Linked DNA regions of Homo sapiens: region 2 is linked to region 1. A link means that fine-mapping ties the variant in region 1 to the expression of a gene that starts in the linked region. Tissue or cell type: stomach. Region 1 holds a variant in brackets; the other region holds the start of a gene. All regions are shown on one strand. Distances are between the middles of the regions.

Region 1 (8,106 bases):
TTAACGTCTGCAAAGCATTTCATTAATATGATCATACTTTATCGTAGCTTACTTAAAAGAGTTTCCTTCTTAAAGACAGATGAACTGTTTCCAGTATTTTGCTGTTAAAAACAAGACTTATATGAACATTTTGATATATACTTTGGTTCAAGTGCAAGTATTTTTCTATGACATTATTTCTCAGACTACATTGCTAGACTGAAAATAAGTATAATTTCTATTTCTAATAACACCAAACTGTACTCCAAAACTCCTTTACCAATGTAAACCCCCACTTGAAAACATTAATGTTCTTCATTTCTGCCAAACGAATGGGTGAGTAATCATATCTCTTTATTTTCATCAGTATTTCCCTGCAGTAAGATTGAGCATTTATTGGCCAGTTCTATTTCTCCTGTGAGTTACCTATCTGATACATATATATTTTTACTCATTTTTTAACTAGGCCGTCTTTTTCTTATGTATTTGTAGAAACTCATTATATGTCTATATAGTATCTTTACTAATGCTTACACGTTACACATGTCAAGTATTTTCTTTTACCATTTCATCTGTTTTTAACTTCTGCATTTAGTTACACAGAAACTCCTAGTTTTATGTAATCAAATGTTTGTGGCTTCTGGGTTTTATGCCCTATTTAAGGAGGATGTACTAACCTCCAAGATTACCAAAATATTTTCACACATTCTACTGCAATGATACTTTTACTTTTTATGTTACTTCATTGGTCCTTAAGAACACATGATGAACAAATACAAGAAGTTTAAGGAACCAAATAAAAACCACAGACTTCGGAGTGGGGCCTGGAAATACAAAGAGTAACCAGATAATCAAAAGTTTTATAGGCGTAGTTAGAATTTGTACTTGCTCCTGAAGGCAATGGGAAATTAGGGAATTTGAAACAGGAAAATAAAATGAACATTCAATTTATTCTTTTAAAAGACTGTTCTGCAACTCATAGAGTGGGAGAAAACACTAACAATATATTTATATATCTGATAAAAATCTCATATCCAGAAAACATAAAGAATTCCTCTAATTAACAAGAAAAAAAAAACAGGTAACACAATAGCAGAACGGCAGACATTTGGAACAGACACTTCACAAAATAGGGTGTACAATGGTCAGTGAACATGTGAAAAAGTTTTCAACTTCATTAGGAGAATGCAAACTAAAACCACAGTAAGATACTACTACAAAATTTTAGAACAGCTATGATGAAAAAGGCAAAAACACCGTATGGTTAACTGGAACAACCATTTTTGATCTGAAATTATCTACTAAAGAGGAACACATTCACACTCCACAGCCCAGCAATTCCACTTCGAACCATAAACTCAAGAGAAATTGATATGTGTCTGTACATGTTTACCAAAAAATATGTTTAAGAATAGTAATAGCACCTTATTATGCATAATAGCACCAAACTGGGAATTACTTGAATGTTCATCAACAGTAGACTAAATTATGGCATATTCATACAATAAAACACTATATAGCAATAAGAATGATGCAATAACAATTAATGAATGATATGTGAAATAAAGTACAATCTCAGATAATACTGTTAACAAAAGAAGCTAGGCACAAAAAGAGTACATGCTGTCAATTCCATTTATATGGAGCTCAAACACACAAAACTAATCAATGGTGCTAGAAATCAGGACAGTAGTTACCTTTGAGGGGTGAGGGTAGGGAGGAGTGACTAGAAGAAAACACAAGGGGACTATGGGAAACTAGTAATTTCCTACTTACTGATTTGAGTGGTTTTACAAATGTGTTCAGTCTGTGAACATCCAATGGGTTGGACACATGTATTGTGCATTCCTCTGAACGTATAGTATACTTCAGTAGAAAAACTTTGTAAGAAAGATTATTCTTGCTTTAAAGTGGGGGATTAATTAGGAGACAAGACTATAAGCAAGGGATGGGATTAGGAGGTTATTTTGGTAAAATCTATTTATAGGCAATAAATAAATACCTTAAGAACTAGAATATTAGTAGTATATCAAGAGAAACAGATGGTTTTCAATGGTATTGGGTACATAAAAATATCTATCTGGTAATGCCTGGGTGGAGGGAAAGAAGTGTCAGTGATGACTCTCAGGACTGTTGGTATCTGGTAGGAAAAGTGATGCCCTTAAGATACATAACTCAGATGGAGATGCCCAGTTGGTCAATGCTAAATTGAGAGCTCCAGATTTTGGAGTCACTACACGTACGACGTTAATGAAGCACTGGGTGCATGATTTCATCTAGAAGGAAAAATTGAAAGTGAGAAAAGAAGATGGCTAGGTAACAGGAAAACAACCAAGTTTTAAAAGCTGTTCTTACAGACAAGTGATTCTCAGAGAGTGGTCTGAGGATACCTAGGAGGTCCCTGAGACAATTTCAGGAGTTCTACAAAATCAGACTATTTCTATAACACTACATTGTTTGCCTGGTGTACTCATTCTCCCATGAGTAGATAGTGGAGTTTCCCAGAATATGTGATGTGGTTAACAGGTGGAATGTAGAAGCAGGTAAGAAAATCTACCTATCAACTATTAAGCCAGATATTAAAACAATTTGCAAAATGATGCAAAACACTGCCACCTCCTCACAATTATTATTTTTTGCTTTGCAAAATAGTTATTTTTCATAAAAGCATATAATGGATTTTTATATGTCATTGTTAAATGAATGAATACATAAATATTAAAAAATTTTCTCAGGTTCATAATATGGCAGTTATGGAAACATAAAATACACAAGGATAAAAGTTATTTGGGGGTTCTGAAAAAGCATATAAAAGTGGCCTAAAAACCAGAAAGTTTATAAATATACCAATTTTTTCTGAATCCAGCTAAAATTGTTATTCCAGATAGAATAACAATGCAGAAGGTAAGTCTATGAAACCAGTTTAGTCTCACTATCCAGGGAGTGGGGCACTTAACTCAATGCTTCAATATTCCCTCAACAGATACTTTCAAATCACAGAGATACACAATGGTCAAAAACTGTGCGTTTCAATCAAGGAAAAGCATAAGAAATTCTTATTAAAGACATTTACACTCACCTTTTAAAAGAATTTCCTATATAAAAGGCTCTTGAAATAAAATCACTTTAGATTTTTTAAAAGAATATAGTTAAGTGCAAATCCTTGGGAATCAACATTTAAGGGGCACACAGAATACAAGGAGCCTCCGTGTAAGACTGAAGGGCTTGAACAGGAAGATACAAAACTGAAGAGTGATAAATAGAAGCCAAAAGAAGAGTCTTTTTCAAGAAAACAGGAGCTCTTGATGTGTCAAATGCTGCAGACGGCCATTTAGGATAGTAACAAGTACATCTCCATTTATTCTGCAATGAGGAGGTCATTAGTGACTTTGAAAAGCAGTTTTAGTGGAGAGTTGGGTCAGAAGA[C/T]TGAATAATAAGTATCAGGTGAAACAGTATCAAGTAGAAACAGTAAGGCACAGAACTGTTTTAAGAATTTAGTTGTTAAGTGGGGATAAGCAGGATAGTGACTAACAGTAAAATAGGGAGGAGAGAAAATGGATGTTAAAGATATAGAAGAGAGTGTATCACAAATGAACAAGATTGCTGAGGCAGGAGGAAATCAGATCTACAATACAAGGGAATTATTCATCAACCTTATACAGCAGGAAGGAGGCCTCTTACACAGAATAAGAGGGAAGTAAAAAAGTTTAGGCACAAATAAAAACTTAGTTTGAAGGTGTGGTAGGAGGAAGTTGAGGGAATTCCTAAAGATTTCCATTGTCTCTGCTTAGTAGATAGCAAAAAAGAGAAATGAAAGCATAGATTTATGGAGAAGGTTTGACATACCTACCAGGAAGAAAAAGAACAGACTTGGGCTTTTCTGAACCTTTTATATTTTCAACAACTACTAATTATTGTAATGACAACTGAAAATATTTTAAAGATAAGAAGTATCAAATACATTTTAAAATGTTTTTTATGCAAAAAAATTAAAATGAAAAGAAAGGATGCTTGGGTGTGTTAAAAGGTAACCCCTTAGTATTTAGGAAAAGTTAGCTCTCCAAACTTGAACAGTTATGGTTTATAATATTTTATTTAAATATACTAGTCAACTAAAATGGGAGAGTATAGCTGCCTTTATTGCTATTTTGTAGAAGCGGTATTAGGTTGGATTATGAAATCCTGAGTAACCATAAACAAGTTTCCTATTTGTTCTTAGAAGCAATTTTTTAACAGCACTGTCCAAAGATGGAACAGGTTTCCTTTAAGTACTGATGTAACAATTACTGGAAAGATGTATTTACAATACTTTACAACTGTTAGTCTATTAAGTCTTCAGAGATAATTCTGAAATATAGTAGTTAATATTGTAGTCTTGTAGCTTCTCAGTTCTCTGTCATAAAGACTCGACTTGGCCACTGTAGCTCAAAAGCAGCCACAGACAATATGTAACCAAATGGATGGACATGGCTGTGTTCCAATAAAACTTTTTTTGCAAAAACCAGTGACTGGCCCACACACTCTAGTTTTCTAATCCCTGGTCTAAGTTTTCAGCTTCTCACTGAAAAAGTTGCTTAAATTTTTAAGATCTTTAGTTTTGTCATCTGTAAGTAGAGTAACAAAGCTATTGAAATAATAAGACAATTATATAAATTACATTAAATTGTCCACCCCCACTCAATGCATTTAACAAATACAAGTTCTCTTTCTCTGTGTTTGGTAATATGACATTACAGTGCCCATCTTTCAGAACATCAAAGAGGTGGAGAAAACATTCAAGGGGTGGAAAATAAATGCTTATTGATGACTCAAAAATGATTTTGCTCCCACCTCAGCTTCCCAAGTAGCTGGGATCACAGGCATGCACCACCATGTCAGGCTAATTTCTTTGTTTTTTTGTAGAGATGGGGTCTTACTTTGTTGCCCACACTGGTCTCAAACTCCTGGGCTAAAGTGGTACTCCAGCCTTAGCCTCCCAAAGTGCTGAGATAACAGGCAGGAGGACTGCTTGACTTCAAGAGGCTAAGCTGCAGTGAGCCATGATTGTACCACTGTCCTCCAGCCTGGGTGACACAGTGAGAGCATGTCTCAAGAAAAAAAATTTTTTTGCTAATTTTTTATTAATAAATCCAGGTCTCTATCTTAATCTGATTTTGATTTCTTCTGAAAGATAAAAGTCAAACATTTCTTGGAAATAACTTTCCCAAGTCCTTAAGATTTAAAAATCTCATTTATAATATTTTATGTAAAACAAATATAGATTTCATTTTAAGCTTAGCGTTAGGAATTTTTAAATTTACATATGCAATACAATCCTGAAGGGCTGTAATGCTGCACAATAAAGTTCTAGAGGGAAAACTAGGAAGGGAAAATAAAAATATGCAATGCAAACCACTTTCTCTGCCTTTGTACAGCTACTATATGCCAGTTTTTGCCTTATAATTCAGTAAGATAGAAATATGTCAATAAAATGATTCTGAAACGAGAGGGATCACAGTCGAAAGGTGTTCTGAAGCCCACGAAAACTCTAGAAAGTAAATAATCAAGAATTCGCCATTTAAACCAAGATTCTGAAACTCACCATCTCTATTAGTTTCCCATTCTACATTTTCTTCTTCACTTTCTGGAGTTCTTTCCTTAGTGATTTTTATGTCTTCCTTTTCCCTATGTCTCCCTCTTGAAGATTCTTTCTAAAAAAGTACATACATACATTCAGATTACTATATTTTTAAAAATTATGAGGTAGTTTATTGTAATAAGAGAACATTTTAATTTCATTCATCTCTGTTTCATCAAAGAATCAGTTTTGTAAATAGTCACTTATCCACTAAGTAGAGAAAGTGACAAATTCTAGTTTAGCACCACAATGAAAAGACTATACTCCATTTTACTAAAGAACAAAAACTACTAAACAACAAAAACTAAAAGAGATGTAGACTATACTACATCTATTTTACTAAAGAACAAAAACTTTAAATATTAAAGAGTAGCTAAGATGTAAAAATATACAATGCAAATCTAATACTTTAACAAACTTGTGACATTCAGCTACACAGTAAGTTTCCACGTGAAAACCACTGGGGAAAAGACAGTTTAAAATGAATAAAATACAATGGAAGGATTTGTAAGTGATTATATTTTAAAATGTCAAAAAAGGGCTAAACCATTCACCACAGACTTCTAAAAATAACTGATCTAGGACTTGTCATATATTCAAGTAATTGTCATTTTCCTAGACACCCAAGGATAAATCCAAACTCATTTAATAGTATTATAAAGGTTTACAAAAATATATTTTACCCATTTTGATGAAACCAAATGGTACCTAAAATAGTAAATTAGTCCTCACTACTGCTGCTAAAAAACAGGTTTTACATTTTATTCCAGGTATAAAAGCAGCTTACACACAAAAAAGGACAAAATTAATTCAGATTATAAAAGTCAATTAAATGTCCTATTACATAAGAACTCCAAATCATATTTTACTAGGTGGTAAGAAAATAAAAGTAACCAGTGTTATATAATTGTTATCTTCCACCACAGCAGAAGTCTTACTTTTACTAACATTGTAAATACTATGAAAGACACTTACACACAAGGATATTAAGTGCTCAAATTTCTTTCTGAGCATTACTAATCATAAAATTTGGCTGCTTAAAACACAAATTAATTTCTCTTTGTAGTTTTCTTCTTAAAGAACTCTAGTATATATAACTGCCCCTAAATTCTACATATTTAGGCATGAAGTCATACTGTAAATATTACTGACAAAATTTGGATTTGATTGCTGGTAAGACAACAGAGGCTGACGAAAATAATTTGTAAGTTATATGAGAATAAAACCTGCCATGAAAAAAATGGTGAAGAGTCAAGAAAACAGAAATGGGCCTCTACTTGAACAGAAGACAAAAGGAAGAAATATAATTTACTTTTACTCTTAAAACATATTATGTGGAACATCAATGAAGAACTATCCTACATCCCAAACAATTTTTGAATGTTCTGTGGATTAAACCCACTGTAAATATACATTACTGAATAACTATACCAAAAATATTTAATAGGAGGTTATCTCCAAATTATTAAATAACATATTCTGTGCTTTCTGTCCACTTAAAAGTATGTAAAATCCAATTGCAAGTCTAGTTAAAAAGGGTGTCAGAGCAGTAGTGCTGGTGCTGCAAAATCAATCTATAAATTTGTAACATTTTTTATCAGATTTAGAGCCAGAAATGTTGTATCAATAAATGTCATTAATAATGATGTCTGTAAATATTTCATATTTACCCTAAATATTAAAATTATAATTTTTGAATTGTCCATGTTTTCCAATATGACTCTGATGCTACTCCCAGAGATCATATATAACTTCTATTATTAGGTACTAGAGACTGAATGCAGGCTTAAATAGGTGATGGAATTTCAAGTTCTTACCTCAAATCATAATATAGGAAATTATTTTGGTAACATTTATTAAGAAGGTCTAGCTAATTTAAAAAATACCTTATTTCCTAATTTCCCCCACTTCAACAATGTGTAACTTGTTTAGGTATGTTATGCCTTTTATCAAACAAAGTTATTCCCCCTTTTCTCTTATACTCAAATAAATAGGGTATGGTATTACTCGTCCAATGTAGTGTAGCACGGTCTACTATTCCACCTTGCTGTATTTCTTGAACAGAATGGCTTCTCATCTTCTCTTAAATCCAAACATATTAATTAAAAGTATAACCTACTGATTACTATGTGTTGTAAATTAGTCATCCTGGAACATCTAAGTCTTGAAATACTTGAAGAACCACAGTATTTTAGCCAAAACCCTTGGGATCAGATATTTTAAGAGTTCAGAATTTTTTTTTTTTTTTGCATTTCAAAGCATATTAAGTAGTACTACTGTTCCAGTGGAGTCTGGAACAGTAGCCTGTGACCAAACATACTAACATTTTTGCAGCAAAACACAGAAATTCACCACTTGTATAAAAACTGTAATTAAATTTATTTCAATTAAGACCAGGTTTTGCTCCCAAATGTCTGTGTCTTAGGAAAAATGTTTGAAGTTTTTTGAATTTCAGAAATGTAATACATGATTTTAGATGTTTATATTACTTTCATTTCCACTCTCATATG
Region 2 (8,106 bases), 530 kb after region 1:
GTTTAAGACCAGCCTGATCAATATGGTGAAACCCCGTCTCTACTAAAATACAAAATTTAGCCCAGCATGGTGGTGTGCAACTGTAGTCCCAGCTAATTGGGAGGCTGAGACAGGAGAATTGCTTGAACCTGGGAGGCGGAGGTTGCAGTGAGCCGGGATTGAACCACTGCACTCCAGCCAGGGCGACAGAGCGAGACACTGTCCCATAAATAAATAAATAAATAAAGGGGCCAGGCACAGTGGCTCATACCTGTAATCCCAGCACTTTGGGGAGGCCAAGGTGAGTGGATCACCTGAGGTCAGGAGTTTGAAACCAGCCTGGCTAATGTGTTGAACCTGCATCTCTACTAAAAATACCAAAAAAAAAAAAAAAAAAAAAAAATTAGCCAGGCATGGTGGCAGGTGCCTGTAGTCCTAACTACTCGGGAGGCTGAGGCAGGAGAATCCCTTGAACATGGGAGGTGGAGGTTACAGTGAGACTCCATCTCAAAAAAAAAAAAAAAAAAAAAAAAGAAAAGAAGATTAGTTGATGTGAGCACAGCTTAAGAAAATGCTTGAAAGCAGGTGACTAGACTTATGTATGACTAACTTCCTTTTAAGAAAACCAAGGGTCTCAGCAAGTACAGTAGTTCCCAGAGTTTTTGATTTCAGAGATAAACAACATCAAAATAATTGGTAACTGACTTTAGTAACCTCCTTTTGTTATTTTTTGAAAAAGGATACTTAAAAAACACTACAATTTATTGTTACCATTGTTTTGGTTTTTTTTTTTCATCAGAAAAAAAAATAGTGAAGGCACAGCCTCACAATTATATATAATTTTTGAAATTAAATACATTCAGGTTCATGAAAAACTCAGGACATTGTCCTATTTTTTTTTCCTCATTTTATCAGGGTCATTTTTTCATCAACTAGCTGATTCACATAGAAAAATCCTGAAACACATATTATTTATCTTCAGAGAAATTCATGTTGATGTTACTAGTTGCATCAAATATCTCAGCCAGACAACATTATTTGTTGAATCTTCCAGGCAGCGGATTTTTTTAAAAGGGCCTGATTCCTGCCCTTAATAGCAAAAGGGTGCTGTTTTCAGAATAAGTAAACAGGGTATTAAACAAAAGAGAGATGTCCATCTTCTTGAAGAAATAGTGAAGAAGCAAGACAGCAAGGGGAAATGGCTTGTCGAGTTTCTTTAATATTTAGAAATAATCAAGATCATTTTCAAGGGTCAAGTACTCTCTCCCATTTTAAGAAAAACTCCTTCATTCAGGGAAATCATTTGAAACTTTAAAGATGTATCAACAAGTACCCCATAAATTTATACAAATAAAAAAGGACATATCAACAGGTGGCAAACCTGTTAAACACATGGTCTATTATGCAATACTTAATTGATTACTAATATTAATTGTGCACTCATTATATACAAAGTACTCCCCTCGATTCTGAGGCATGGGGAGAGAGTTGCAAAGATGAATAGGTCCCTATTTCATGGAATTTACAGTTTAGTAATCTGTAGATGGGTAAACAAACCACAATGAGTAGGTCAATCTAACAGAGGGACTGATCATTTGTTAAAAAGCAAATCGTGGGCTCATATGCAATCCATTATTTTCTTTAAAGAAGAATTAGTGGTCTTTTAAAAAAATATGTATGCTTCCTATGATGCATCACAACGACTCTTAGTCTGAACTAAATTTGCAGTCAGCCAGAAGATGTCCCAAATCATGTCCTGACTGCTGATCACACAGACTACCACCTGGTTTCAGCTGAAGATTCTTTTAATTGGATTTTTTTCTGTGTTTCTGTTTTTCACTGGATTTTGTTTTTCTCTGTTCCTCTCCCTGGAGGAAAGTGGAAATTTGGTTACTTTTTTGTGATGGAAGTATACTTTCATTTATTATTATTGTCGTTATTATTATGAATTTTGAAGCCGGACTTTTAAAAGCCTGGAAGGCTGCGGCGAATGGCATGTGAGAGGGGAGGTTTGCGGGAGGATACCAGCAGGTGGCGCGTGTCTCCTCCGGGCAGATTAGAATGCTTTGCTCAGGGCCAAGAATCCCGCAGGAATTAAGGGCAACTATCTGTGCAGTCAATTCAAGTGACACAGATCATGCCATACTTAAGTGCCGAGTCCATGAAGTCACCAGTTCCAGCCTGTTGTCTAGGCCATCAAACTTATGTATTACCACTTAAAAAACCAGCTCCCCTACTCCAAGGGTTGCATTACTTTCGTGCTTGACACCCCGACAACCCCGCACCCACCCCCCGACTCATTTTCCCCAAGCCAAGTCGCTCATAGGGGACAATCAAGCCTTAAGAATAGAGCAAAAATAAAGGCCCTGGAAAGTTGGACATGAAGCTTTAACTTCAGGAAAGGAATGGTATTCTATTAATCGTCCAGCTGGTCTGCCCTTAGGGTGTCAGATGTTCTCTGTCGCCCCTGGTGTGCCAGCATTGGCCTGGGTGCCACTGGGTGGCTGATGGCAGAATGTGAATTCACTTGCAAGCGGACATGTTCGTTTCCATGCCCCAAAGCGGGAAGAAGAAGGGCACAAGGAGACTTCGATGGTTCTTTCAGCTCAGACTCGAGCTGTGACTGATTTGCTGTTTGGGGTCACTGGCTTTCTAGCCTCTCCTGGCACCACCCAATTTCGGGGAGCAGCCAGCTCATCTTTCTCCTACGACAATGTCTTCTGTCCCCCATAAACACTGCCCTCATTTTGAGTTTTTCTTTCCTATGTCTGTAGCTTTCTTCTGCCGCTCAGCAAACACTCTGTCCCACTCGTATTCGTCCCTTGGCGCTGGCGTCTGGCCCAGGGGTACACTGTGAAGGAGGGCAACCCTAGATTCTGAGGGCCCTAGCTCGAATCTAGCGCCCCTCTAACTGCAGGGGTGACCTTAGATACATTTATTAACTTCCTCTGTAGACTCAGGGGAACAACTTTGGCACTCCTGGGGTCCCTGGATTAATGAGGTAACTTACGTAGACTCCCTAAACAAGCGTCTGGTTCATTGTAAGCGCCCAAATGCCAGGGGGCATCTGCAGGGATGACCCCATAGTGAATGAAAACTGCCTCTTGGGGATCTCTGGGTTAAACGGCCAGAATAAATCGCAGAATTGAGAGAACCCTCTCCTGCCCCAAACCTCACTGTACTGTAAATCCCATTCATTGCCTCCCGCCGTTTTATCCGTGTTCTCAGACCACCCCCCTATCCCCGCAACCTCCAGTCCCCTAAAGCCTCCTGGGCGGCAAAAGGACGCCCAGAGAGAGGTTCGGCGCCTCAGTTGCCCCGGAGCAGACGTCCAGCCCCGCCGTGTACCCGATTGCGGGGCGGATCGCGGCAAGGCGGCGGCGGCCGGCAGAATAGGCGCGGAGGAAGGCTCAGGCGGGGCAGACTGCGTGGGGGAAGGAGGAGGAGAGAGCAGACGGCGGAGGAGGGCAGAGCAGCCGGGGGGAGGGCGCAGGGGCGGGAGGAGACACATGCGCGCTGCCGCCGCCGCCGCCGCCGCCGCAGTCCTTAGCTTCCCGGGGACAGGAAACCTTCAAGACCGAGCTGCCACGGCCGCCTCCCCGCCCGCCCCCCATTCTACGCGCCTGCCCACACCCTCCTCCCCTCCTTCCAGCGCCTTTCGGTGGAGCACTGCGGCACTCAGCCCGAGCTGCCGTTTTCCCCTCGCGGGGAACGCTGTGACCCCCCCGCAGGAGCGGCGGGGCGGGGTGGGGGGGCCCGGGAGAAGATGGCGACGCCGGGAAGCGAACCCCAACCTTTCGTCCCGGCCCTTTCGGTAGCTACTCTGCACCCACTTCATCATCCCCACCACCACCACCACCACCATCAGCACCACGGAGGAACCGGCGCCCCCGGCGGGGCGGGTGGTGGCGGCGGTGGCAGCGGGGGCTTCAACCTGCCCTTGAACCGGGGTCTGGAGCGCGCGCTTGAGGAGGCGGCCAACTCCGGGGGGCTGAACCTGAGCGCCAGGAAATTGAAGGAATTTCCCCGTACCGCAGCCCCCGGGCACGACCTCTCGGACACGGTGCAGGCAGGTGAGTGAGGGCCGAGGGGCGGGCAGGGGTGTGGGTGCTGTCTGGGTGTCTGTCGTGCGTTCCCTAACGCGGTGGACAGTCGGAGATCTTGTCTTGCTGGGGGAGGGAGGGTCCATCGGCCCGTTGTCTCCCGAAGAAGGGACTCGCGTGGGCGCGGAAGAAGCGGGCCCTGGAGAGGGCACGGGGGCCCTGCCTGGTCCGGCGATGCAGTGCCAGGAGGGCAGGGGTGCGCCGGGCCTCTGCGCCTGAGAGCGAGGGGTCTCCGGCTCTCCACCCTGTGGCTGCCGCGCCAGGGAAGTAACCGCGGGGCTGGGACTTGCAGGCGCGCCGCGTGCGCGCAGTGTAAGTGGGAGGTTTCAGGCGGCTGTGTCGGCTTCCTGGGCCCCGCGCAGGGCTGGGAACTCCAGCGCGGACAGCGGCGTCGGCGCCTCCAACCAGTTCAAGCCGTCTTTGCATCGAGGCGTAGCCCATCCTGGTGGGGAAACCCAGACAAAGGTGGCACGCCCTCGGCCGAGCCAGGGGCATCGGCGCAGTGCCGCGAGCCCCCTCGGCGACATCGCCGAGCGATCGGGCAACTCGGTGCCGCCTGTGAGGTGCCCAAGTTTCCTCTCCCTGCGCTTGTGCGGGAAAAGAGCCGCCGGGCTTGTAGTGAATCCCAGTCGGCTGCCGCTTCGGAAGCGATCGGCCCTCTTCCTTCCGTGCCTTTTGCTCACCGCCCACACAGTTTGGGTCCTACCACCGAGGCTACCTGGTTCTCAGTTACCCAACCGTTGCGGGGGCCCCAGGAAAGGACGGCGTGGCATATTAAAGGCAAAGTAATTAACGTGAGCCTGTTTTCCTGTGTGAGCCCGGCAAGTTGTAACTCGCGCCAATAAGCAGCATAACTTTTTCAAGTTACGTCATGTGTTACATACTTCTAAAACGTCTGCTTTCTCTTTGGTAGTTGGAGTTCCAGGAGCGGGATCTATAAACAGGAAGGAGGGTGGTGGAATAGGATTGGGGCCTTAGGGTCTATACAGAACTGACTTGGTTTCCGGCCATCCGGTTCCGCTCCCTGGGGGAGGGTTTGTGTCATAGCAAGCGCCCAACATTTCCCAGGGCAGTGGGTGCTCCGTTTTGGAGCCGCTGCCCAGACCTCTTGGCTGTCATCGCCTCATGGCCCAGGGTCAGACCCCCTGGGTCTTGGATGGGTTGACTCTCATCACAGGAGCACCCAGTTTAATCTTGTAGTGGGCAAGGGAGCAGGCAGTGGGTTTTTGGAGGCTAGGTTTCCAGTGTCTTTTCCCCCTTTTAATTCAATAAACATTTATCTAGAGCCTTAATGAATATTTAGATACAGTTCTGAGTTCACTGGAGGCAAAGATGGCTCTCCAGGGTCATTAAACTTTGTAATTTGGATTTAGGGATAGTCAGGAATCGGCAAAAAAGAGGGAATTTCCAAAGTTGAGCTGTCAACAGCTGGGGAGTGTCTTTCAATAAGACCTCTTAGTTACATCTTCTCAAGTGGAACTTATTCCAAGAATTGCCTGAATCACTGACTTAAAAAACTACATTAAATTTTACTTCCCTTCTGCTATAGAGTGTACCGTGAGCTAGCTATGCTATGGTTGGCTATATCTGCAGAAAATAGAGCTGGCATGACTAATAATAATAGGTTTGTGTAGTTCAGTAAGGGGGCTTCATAGTTGTTCTACTTCAGTTATGCTAAGGATTATTTACAAAGTTAGGTGAACTTGATGTGTCTGCTGTGTTGGCATTTCTTTGAGAAGACCAGTGCTTTTAGGGATCACATCTTTTAGCTAAGACCTCGCCATGTGAAGTGGATGCTGAAAGTGTTCTTGTTGGCTTGTTTATGGCAAGCTTAAGTTGTGAGTTTTGCAGGTTTTTATTTATGAGCTCACTTGCACATGTTTTATGCTCAGGAAAATCTAACTGGTTAAAATTCAGAGGCTTTATGTTAATTCCTCATCCAAAAATACAGTATTATTTGGGGGAAGAGGAGTGGAGGGATATTCATGTTTGTAGAAACTTAAGTCAACCCCATCAGAAAAGTATTCATTGCAGCTAGTTATTTTACATGAAATTAGAATACCCAAATGTATTAAATATTTGCTTCTGCAAAACGTCTTTGCCTCAGGTCAAAAGCTAGGTGTAAACCACATGTACTCTTTGTTCTAAAGATAAATTTAATTGAGCACAGTTTCTTATTTGAGAGACCAGAAAGCAAAATAAAGAGTTAAAGTTACCTCCGGTGTACACAGTGTTGACACAGCGTACATGTAAGAGTTCTAGTACAGTTGAAAGTTTGAGTAGTAACATTTATAATAAAGATAGTGGTTTCTCCTTGACTCATATTTACTTTAAGAATGTCTCTTAAAATTAGAATGGCATATGAAGATCCTTAAAGGCCTAAGAGGCAAAGTGGATTTTTTTTTCCATATATTTTCTAAGACAGGGAGTGGTAGAGCAAGCTTTTTCTCACAGTTTTGTTGTATATTACAGGCCATTTGGTTTACGCCTTGTAAAAAGTCAGGCTTCTGGCAGCCACCTGTGCAGAACTGCACCTGGGCAATATAGCCCATCTGAACAGAGTGGAAAACCAAGATGTAAACAAAGAAACATAGAATAGATGTCTAAGCTGTCACTCAAGTGCATATACTTTATTGATAGGAAAAAATTCAAGCTCTCATTTTGAGCCTATTAATTTACTTCTATTTGAATCAAAATAAGTTTTGTTGTCAGAGTCTAGTCTTTTAATAGGTGAAACGGGGAAAGAAAGACTGATCCACGCAGGTGCAGTGAGTGACACAGGTGTCACTGATGGAAAGGGACAAAACAGAAGAGCCACTATCAGCACTGGGTGCGCCTCTCTATGCGTTATCTGCATGATCTTAGTCCCCACTAGGAGCCCAGTCATACCCTCATTTATACATGGGAAGACTGAGACAGAGACAAGTTACATAATATGCTGAAGATTATACCTCTACTGAGATGGTCAACCGGTGATTGGAACCCTGGCAGCCTCACGTTAATTCATGTTCTTGACCATATTCTCATCAAGCAGAGGGAAGGGGTTGAGAGATAGAATCTGGGAGGCTTCCTGGAAATTCATTCAACCAGCATTGATTCCACAAGAATGTACTGAGCCCCTCTGAGTGCTGGCCACTGATCTAGGCACTGGGGACACAACAGTGACCAAAAGAGAATCCCTGTATCCCTTCTTGTGGAGTTCATTCTAGTTGGAGAATAGAGAGATACATGAATAAATTGATTTTGCAGGATAAATAGGATGAGTTACAGGATAGATGGAATATCTTTGTTTTATAAATACACAGATTGCTTTGTATTGACTTCAGGTGGCTTGTAGCAAGAGTATAAATGATGACTAGTAATACATATAATCTGAAGCATAAAATTGGGCCAAAGAAAAACAAGTACACAAATTTGCATATGAGTAAAGCAAATTTTTTTTTTTTTTGGTGCTGATTTATTAAGTAGTGTCGTTTTGAATGAAGAAGTTCAAAAGGGTATTTTGTACAATTAAAAGTGAATTGAAAAGGAGTAAGAAAAGAAAGTGGCTGATTGCAGGAGGTTCTAGAAAATAAAAAAGAAGCCCTTAGACTTGGCATGCAGGACACTTGTTGAAAGTCTTGTTAAGGAAAGTGGGGAATATTTCATTGCTAATTATCTTTTTGAGTTGGCTCTAAGCAGGAAAGACTATGGGCCAGGCACTGTGGCTCACACCTGTAATCCCAGCACTTTGGGAGGCCTAGGTGGAAGGACCACTTGACCCCAGGAGTTTGAGAACGGTCTGGGCAATATAGTGAGACCCCATCTCTACGAAAAATAAAATATTAGGCCAGGCACGATAGCTCACTCCTGTAACGCCTGCACTTTGGGAGGCCAAGGTGGGTGGATCACCTGAGGTCAGGAGTTTGAGACCAGCCTGACCAACATGGTAAAACCTCATCTCTACTGAAAATACAAACATTAGCCGGGCATGGTGGCATGTGCCTGTAATCTCAGCTACTCAGGAGGCTGAGGTGGGAGAATC

Alleles and levels. Alleles are on the strand shown, and positions count from the first base shown. SD is a standard deviation of normalised expression in the study named.
For the expression in stomach of the gene that starts at base 3,519 in region 2, allele C in region 1 goes with a higher level than allele T (large effect, 0.77 SD a copy in GTEx).

Evidence for each region. PIP is the estimated chance that this variant, and not a neighbour inherited with it, causes the effect.
Region 2: LRCH1 starts here. The variant in region 1 is fine-mapped to the expression of LRCH1 in stomach (GTEx, PIP above 0.99).

The regions. Positions count from the first base shown.
Region 1 is chr13:46,014,889-46,022,994 of GRCh38, forward strand. ZC3H13 (zinc finger CCCH-type containing 13) reads right to left here. Exons shown (of 19, transcript NM_001330564.2): 5 at 5,561-5,669. Among named protein-coding and RNA genes, the nearest start is that of ZC3H13, 34 kb to the right of the region's middle. The variant C/T (reference allele first, on the strand shown) is at 3,406.
Region 2 is chr13:46,549,652-46,557,757 of GRCh38, forward strand. It overlaps LRCH1 (leucine rich repeats and calponin homology domain containing 1), which reads left to right and starts at 3,519. Exons shown (of 20, transcript NM_001164211.2): 1 at 3,519-4,052. The coding sequence starts at 3,746. RefSeq lists silencers at 3,463-3,652, 3,713-3,772 and enhancers at 3,976-4,676, 4,333-4,652.